Homo sapiens: one gene and its partner. The protein of the gene in region 1 interacts with the protein of each later gene in a pairwise test. Each region holds a gene or a part of one and is shown in the gene's direction. Other genes may lie near its edges. The genes, in order: MAP4K3 and SORBS1.

What was found.
Region 2: the proteins of MAP4K3 (region 1) and SORBS1 interact in a two-hybrid assay, tested with the Homo sapiens proteins (one large-scale study listed by BioGRID and IntAct).

The regions. Positions count from the first base shown.
Region 1 is NC_000002.12:39,322,224-39,326,044, reverse strand, and holds part of MAP4K3 (mitogen-activated protein kinase kinase kinase kinase 3), read left to right. Parts: intron 1-83; coding exon 84-146; intron 147-233; coding exon 234-315; intron 316-416; coding exon 417-527; intron 528-3,821. UniProt on the Homo sapiens protein: Serine/threonine kinase that plays a role in the response to environmental stress. Appears to act upstream of the JUN N-terminal pathway.
Region 2 is NC_000010.11:95,334,268-95,338,088, reverse strand, and holds part of SORBS1 (sorbin and SH3 domain-containing protein 1), read left to right. Parts: intron 1-794; coding exon 795-1,568; intron 1,569-3,821. UniProt on the Homo sapiens protein: Plays a role in tyrosine phosphorylation of CBL by linking CBL to the insulin receptor. Required for insulin-stimulated glucose transport. Involved in formation of actin stress fibers and focal adhesions.

The DNA.
Region 1 (3,821 bases):
GGGAACAAATAGTAATAGAATTTGTGTAATAGATAAAAATGTGAAATATTAAAATGCTGTGTAATGATTTGTTGATTTTTCAGAGCATTATTTCTAATGACAAAAAGCAATTTTCAGCCTCCTAAACTAAAGGATAAAATGAAATGGTAAGTATTTTTATGTTATTTACTTTTATGGTGAGATGAGCAAAAAATGAATTGGAATGTAAAAGTCTAATTTTCTAAATTTCTTAGGTCAAATAGTTTTCATCACTTTGTGAAAATGGCACTTACCAAAAATCCGAAAAAAAGACCTACTGCTGAAAAATTATTACAGGTATTATTTTTGCCCTGAAATATATATATATATTTCAAAAGATAAAATGTTATTCAATCAGATTTATAGTAAGTGTTCTGCATTGTATTTAATTTTTATAGCATCCTTTTGTAACACAACATTTGACACGGTCTTTGGCAATCGAGCTGTTGGATAAAGTAAATAATCCAGATCATTCCACTTACCATGATTTCGATGATGATGATCCTGAGGTAGGAATTGCTTTTACCAGCGGGCATATATAACATGTATATGTGTATGTATATATGTGTGTCTGTATGTACGTCTCAAAATCCATTTTTTTAATTTTGGGGCCTAGTTTAAATAAAAAAGCTCTTGAGGGAACAATTAATTCTTTGTCTTTGCCTTTCATGGAAAGTCAAATGCTAGGTTTTTCTTACTGACTACTTATAGGTGACTATAGTGTGAAAATGGCAAAGGCATATCATTTAATCCACTTGTTGAAATCACTGTAGTTATTTCAAAATAGCCATTTTTGGTGAAGTTGCCAAATAATCATTCACTGTAAAAGGGAAAGCAAATGGGAAGTGCCTAAACAAGACATTTGAATATTCAAAATTTCCCCTCAGTTTGCTTCTCAAAAAGAATCCTCAGTTTGGCCTGGTGGCTCATGTCTGTAATCCCATCACTTTGGGAGGCTGAAGCAAGAGGATTACTTGAGGCCAGGAGTTTGAAACCTGCCTGGTCAACATAGCAAGACCCCGTTTCTATCTTTAAAAAAAAATTCTTATATAATACTTCATAAATTATTAGAGGTTAGTAGGAAGTATAGGCTTGACTTTGCCAGTGACTAAAACTCAGCTATTCACTATGGAAATGTTTTAAAATGAGCCAGTATAGTTGTTAATAAAATAATTCTAATATGACAGAAGCATTGATATTAATGGAAGCTTCACTTCTGTTTGCATATGTAACATTCCTAGCACTGCTAATAGTTGTGGCAACCAAGATAAATTCAGTATATGTGACATGGCAGAATTCTGTTATTGGGTCTGTAACAGAAGTGGATAGGCTTTAACTCTACTGGCTTTATGGGAGGCCCTTAAAAATATTGTAAATTTCATTAATGACTGAAGGTGAAGTGTTTAGAAAGACGGCCACAGATTGTCTTAAGTCAGAGAGAACCTTTCTATCAATTCAGCATTGTCCCAGCTTGCCATCTTATGATAGATAAGCTATTTGTCCTTTTGTTTAAGGGTCTGGAAAAGAGTTTGGAGCTTAAAAATGTAAGGAATGTAAAGTATAATTAATCTTATAATTATACTCTGAAGAAGTTTTTTTTGTTTTGTTTTTGTTTTTTTTTGAGATGAGTCTTACTCTATTACCCAGGCTGGAGTGCAATGGCATGCTCTCAGCTCACTGCAGCCTCTGCCTCCTGGGTTCAAACGATTCTCCTGCCTCAGCCTCCTGAGTAGCTGGGATTACAGGAGCCCACCACCATGCCCAGCTAATTTTTGTATTTTTAGTAGAGATGGGGTTTTACCACATTGGCCAGGTTGGTCTCGAACTCCTGACCTTGTGATCTGCCTGCCTCGGCCTCCCAAATGCTGGGATTACAGGCATGAGCCACCGCACCTGGCCTGAAGAAGTTTTTTGGTGTTGATTTGCTTAATTTTATTTTTAAGAAAGTTAAGTTTTACAAACTCTTCTAGTCTTATTTAGTATACAGGCAGTCCTTGATGTGCATGGTAGTATGGGACTGTAAAAATGACTGCATAAGCTAAAATTCTGCAAAGTAATCTTAATAATCAGGAAAAATTATAATTGTTTCATGACTTTTAAAATTTTTTGTTAAAGCATAAACTCTGTTACTGTCAGTTGTAATTGTAGAAATGTGAAAAAATAGTAAAACTATTATTTACAGTGTATTATAAATATTAGAATCATCGAGAGTTAATGTGTTTCATTTCTTTGTTAATGAACTTTTCATGCACTTTTTTTACTTATCTAGTAGTCTGCTTATTGAGTAGTTTGCCTTTTCATCATGTGTCTGTGACACAGAGCAAGTATCTTTTCTATGCCTTGGCAAATTGTCATATTGCTTTCTAATTTTCTTTCTAATCATGATCATGATGTGCATCTGTTATTTACGTAGTAATTTGTGAACTGAAAGGCTACCAATAAAGTTTATACTTTATGCAATTTCAATTAATATACAGTGGTAACTGTTATTTGAACCATGATGTAGGGAACTAGTGTTATTTAACTAAATTATGGTAACTGAAATTGGTGCATAACAAAGCTGTAAAACAAGGACTGCCTATATCCTTTTCAGTGCACTAAATGCTACATGATTGTTTCTTACCTCACCCTATGTACTTGTCATGTCTTTTTAAAAATGTACTCAAAGAACAGAAATAATAAACCAAATAGAGAAGCAATCTGTGGAATGAAGATTCTTCTAAAACTTTCTCATATAGCAGGGAAAGAAACTCATCTTTCTTATCCAGACATTGTTTTGGTATTATAATTATAAATTGTTACAAATCTCTATGGTAAGTAGGTAAAATAAAGGAATTTAATTATTCCAGGGGTAGGATGAGGGGAAGCTGTTACATTCCCTCTCACAGTAGCTTAGAATAATGTTTTTCTTAAGAGAAATTCATAACTTTTTTATTTGCAAATGATTTGTAATTGTAATTGCTAAGTGCAGTGTTGTCACTCAAAATACGAATGTATCTAAGAATTTCAGCACTTACTGTGATACTAGAACTATTGTATGCATACTCTTAAAAATAAGGGTGGGCTCAGTGGCTTATGCCTGTAATCCCAGCACTCTGGAAGACCGAGGCAGGTGGATCACCTGAGGTCAGGAGTTTGGGACCAGCTTGGCTAACATGGTGAAACCCCGTCTCTACTAAAAATACAAAAATTAGCCGGGCATGGTGGCTCATGCGTGTAATCCCAGCTATTCAGGGGGCTGTGGCAAGAGAATTGCTTGAACCTGGGAGGCAGAGGTTATAGTGAGCCAAGATCATGCGACTGCACTCCAGCCTGGGCAACAGAGCGAGACTCCATCTCAAAAAAAAAAAACAAAAAATAGAAAAAGAAAAATATATATATATGTGTATTTATCTATATATACATATATACACACACACACACACACACACACATATACCACATCTAAGTCTAGTTTAAGTTTTTTATAGGTTATGCACTGTGGAAGAAAGTTTGACTTTTTAATGTTGAGTTCCCCTGTAGTTTCTATTTTAGAAGTAATTACACACTGGTGTAATTCTAATTCTGATTTTTATTCAGTTTTCGTCTCCTATATGTAAGCCCACTTACTATGTACAGCATTATAAGATTTAACAATTTTATTAATCTGTTATGCTAATAAATTAATAATTTATTGTGCTGTTTAAGCCGGGAAGGTAAAACTGTTCTCAGAAATAATCATGAGTTTCATCCATGTTCATTAATAACAGTCTGTATGAGTAACCTGCATGTTACCTGTTTTTGTTTGGTTTTGCTACTGTATA
Region 2 (3,821 bases), on another chromosome or scaffold:
AGAGTAGGACCTGGGGGCCCAGGTTGACCCTGAGATGGTGCCTCTTGTCTGGTCCTCTAATTGTTTCCTCCTCTGCCACCTGCTCATCACTGACCCCAGTAGAGGGTTCTTGGCAGAAAGCATTAAACGGGCTGACCCAGGGCTTCCTGGACAGTGATAGCCGCATCCTGTTGTCTTATAGGACAGAGTGTGTGACTGGAGTGGGACATTCTTCTTTGTAAGGATGCAGGGAACTCAACTACATTTTTCACTTGACTAGCCAAGAGTGATTGTAAAACAAAACTAGTACACTACTCATACTCCTCTCTGGAAGACTCTGCTGAGCTCCCAGAGAAAATAAAACCCCAGGGAAGGGCCATGGCAGTGTGGGGCCACCTTTCCCCGTATGGTTCCGGGTCAGGGATCTGGATGCACAGGGGCTGGGTTGGCTGGGATGGGGAGCTTCCAATGTGTCCCTTTGAAAATCTGATTCTGCAAAGCAGGGCGGCCTCATCCGTCACTACTCTGACGGGAACCTCTCCCCATCTCCACACCTCTCACTGCTTCCTCCACCCCCTGCCTGCACACATCAGGATCACGCTCGCACATGCTCAAACGCACACTCACCCATCCTGGTTTCTCCCCAGATGTAACCTGAGGATTTCCTTTTTGGACACCAGAGTGTCCTTGCTCATCCTCTCCATTTCATTCCTCTTTATATACCCCTTGTGATTATTTTCCTTCTTTTTCCTTTATGCTGACACTTGTACCTTTTGCTTCTTTCTTTTGTTTTCCTCTCTTTTCTTCTTTTTAAGTTTTCCAGTCACAGCAAGCTCATCACGCCAGCCCCCTCATCTCTGCCCCACTCCCGCCGAGCCCTGTCCCCCGAGATGCACGCTGTCACCTCTGAGTGGATCTCACTGACTGTGGGGGTCCCAGGCAGGCGTTCTCTGGCCCTGACCCCACCCTTGCCTCCTCTGCCAGAGGCTTCTATCTATAACACTGACCACCTCGCCTTGTCACCAAGGGCCAGTCCCTCCCTGTCTCTCAGCCTCCCCCATTTGAGTTGGTCAGATCGTCCCACCCCACGATCAGTAGCTTCTCCACTGGCCCTACCTTCCCCACACAAAACCTACTCCCTAGCACCTACTTCCCAGGCCTCCCTTCACATGAATGGAGACGGTGGTGTCCACACGCCATCTTCAGGCATCCACCAAGATAGCTTCTTGCAGCTGCCGCTGGGGAGCTCTGATAGTGTCATCTCCCAGCTTAGTGATGCCTTTAGCAGCCAGAGCAAGAGGCAGCCATGGCGCGAAGAGAGTGGACAATATGAGAGGAAAGCAGAGAGGGGGGCAGGCGAAAGAGGCCCTGGTGGACCCAAGATCTCTAAGAAGAGCTGCTTGAAGCCTTCAGACGTGGTCAGGTGCCTGAGTACTGAACAGAGACTCTCAGATCTCAACACCCCTGAGGAGAGCCGGCCCGGCAAGCCCCTGGGTAGCGCTTTTCCAGGAAGTGAGGCTGAGCAGACAGAGCGGCATAGAGGTGGCGAGCAGGCGGGGAGGAAAGCTGCTCGGAGAGGTGGGAGCCAGGTAGGACTGCAGCATGCCGCGTGTGCACTTGGCGTCTCACTTGGCAGGGTGGGCTGCACGTCTCGCCCCTGGTCCATCTACGGAGGCCAAGTGAATGCTGGTGAGACCATTTGCTTGCCTCAGGAGCAAAGAGATGGCCCCAGAGGGAATGGGAGGACATGAATTCAGGTGCCAGGACTGGATACAGTTGGAGGGAAAGGACAGGCTATATCTGGCCACTTGAGGTCATTTGGAAGTTATCTCTACTTTGAATGCCTCCTGGCCTGCTGCAAGGGCCTCTGAGAAGGCAGACCTTCCTCACATCCCATGTATGCCTTAGAGATGACCCTCAGTTTGCTTTGACTAACACAGCTGAGAACACCAGGCTTTGGTGTGGTGTGGTTTGCTTTTATGTAAGATGCACTTTGTTTCCATAACCCATGGTGCTCTGCTAGTGCTCGGCTCTGTCAGGTCTTTGTCCTGTCTCGTGTTTGTGTGGGAGCGCGGGGCCTTTGTTTGCTATGAAACAAAGGTGTTTTGGTTCTGGAGAGGAGAATGCAGGTCTCCTGGGGCCCTGACTGACATGGGGTATCCTCGAATAGCCATGCCAGGTTTTGGGGTGAGTGTACCATCTTCTCTCTGGGTCAGCTACAAAGACCCAGAGAGCATTTGGACAAAGGTAGCCTTAGGGTGTTTTGAGACCTGAAAATTTTTTTGGAGAAATGAACTTAGCAACTAAACAAATCACAATTCTGATTTTGGCTATGCTGTTGACTACTGCGAAAGTCAAAGACTTTCGGCAACTTCTCAGAAGCAACCAGGTTTGAATGCCAGCTCCACCTCTTACAGTCTAGTGACTTGGGAGTTGCTTCCCCTGTCTGAGACTCAGTTTCCTCATCTGTAAAATGGAGATGATAGCACCTACCTCAAAGAGTGGTTGATTACAAGGGCTTATGATCCTGGGAACATGGTCAGCACTTTATAAACGGAAGCTATAGAGCCACCATCTTGGGTGATCTAGAATTGCTTCTAGAACTGAGAATATTTTTAGAACTTCCTTAGACCCAGATTGAGTTCCTGAAGATGTCTCCAAGCCATTTATTAAGTATCTAGTATGTCTGATGTCCACAGTAAATAGTGCTTAACCCTTAGGCTTGCAACCTCAGTTTCCCTTTGAGGCTGTAGTTATTCAGTCTATGAATAAGGCCTGCAGGTACCAGCCTCTGGGCAGAATACAAAGGTCATTTGTCTCTCCTCTTGAGAACCCTAAGTTCAAGGCTCCTCAAAACAAGGAGGAGCCTAGCAATATCACCAGGGCAATAATAGAGGCATGCTTGGGGGACACAGGAGCACAGAGGCTTGAGACACACTAGGCCAGACTTCCAGCTCCAGCCAAGCACATGTGGGCCCATGGGTGGGCCAGCACATCAGGAGTGGGGATCACTGAGGGTGAGCCGGCATGGGGCAGTTTATAAGAAATCAGGCTTAGCCTTTTGCTAGAAAGCCACTTAACCTCTCACATGCTAAGCAGGAGTGGAAGCAGTCCATCCCTTGTAGGGCAGTCATAAGGATTCAGTGAGGTAATTCATGGAAGTCGGTGCTTGGCATGTGCCAAGGCTCCATATGTGGGGTCACCCGCTGCTGTGGAGGGCTGTAGGAAAGCAGTAATACCTGGCAAAGGCTTTGCCTGGCCCTGGAACAGGTTGAGGAAGGAATAGAAGAGATGGTGAAGTGGCTAGTTGAAAAGAATTAAACGTTTCTGACACAGGAACAATTCTATAAACATTCTAAGTCAACCCAAGGCACCCGGGGACATCCTTATCGTCAGTGTTGAGTCATCATCCCGGCCCAATTCCAGGATCCTGTGTGTATAGGAAGTGCGCACGGTGCCGGATCTCCGAGTAAGGTTAGGGGTATACGCTTCCTGCTTCCTAAGGCAGGATAGGAGGGGAGTAGCTGGCAACACTGAAGATTATGTTGATTGGAAAGCCAGGCTTGTTGAAACTTGGTGTTCCTTTCTTGGTGGGCCTCCAGACCCCAAGTGTACCACTTCCTGTCCCCTCCCTTCCTCCTGCCCTCCTGGCACAAGCCCCTTCTCCATGGGTGTGCACAGGCTGTGGCCTGGGGCTCGCTCCCCCTTGAGAGCTGGCATTTGTGTGAAAAGGGCTGCTGCCCACACCTCCCCTTCAGCCCCCTCACTTTCCCCTCCTGTGGCTGGAGCAGGAGCTGACAACTCTGGAAACGGGGTCCTTCAGAAGGGGCTCCTGTGTCTTG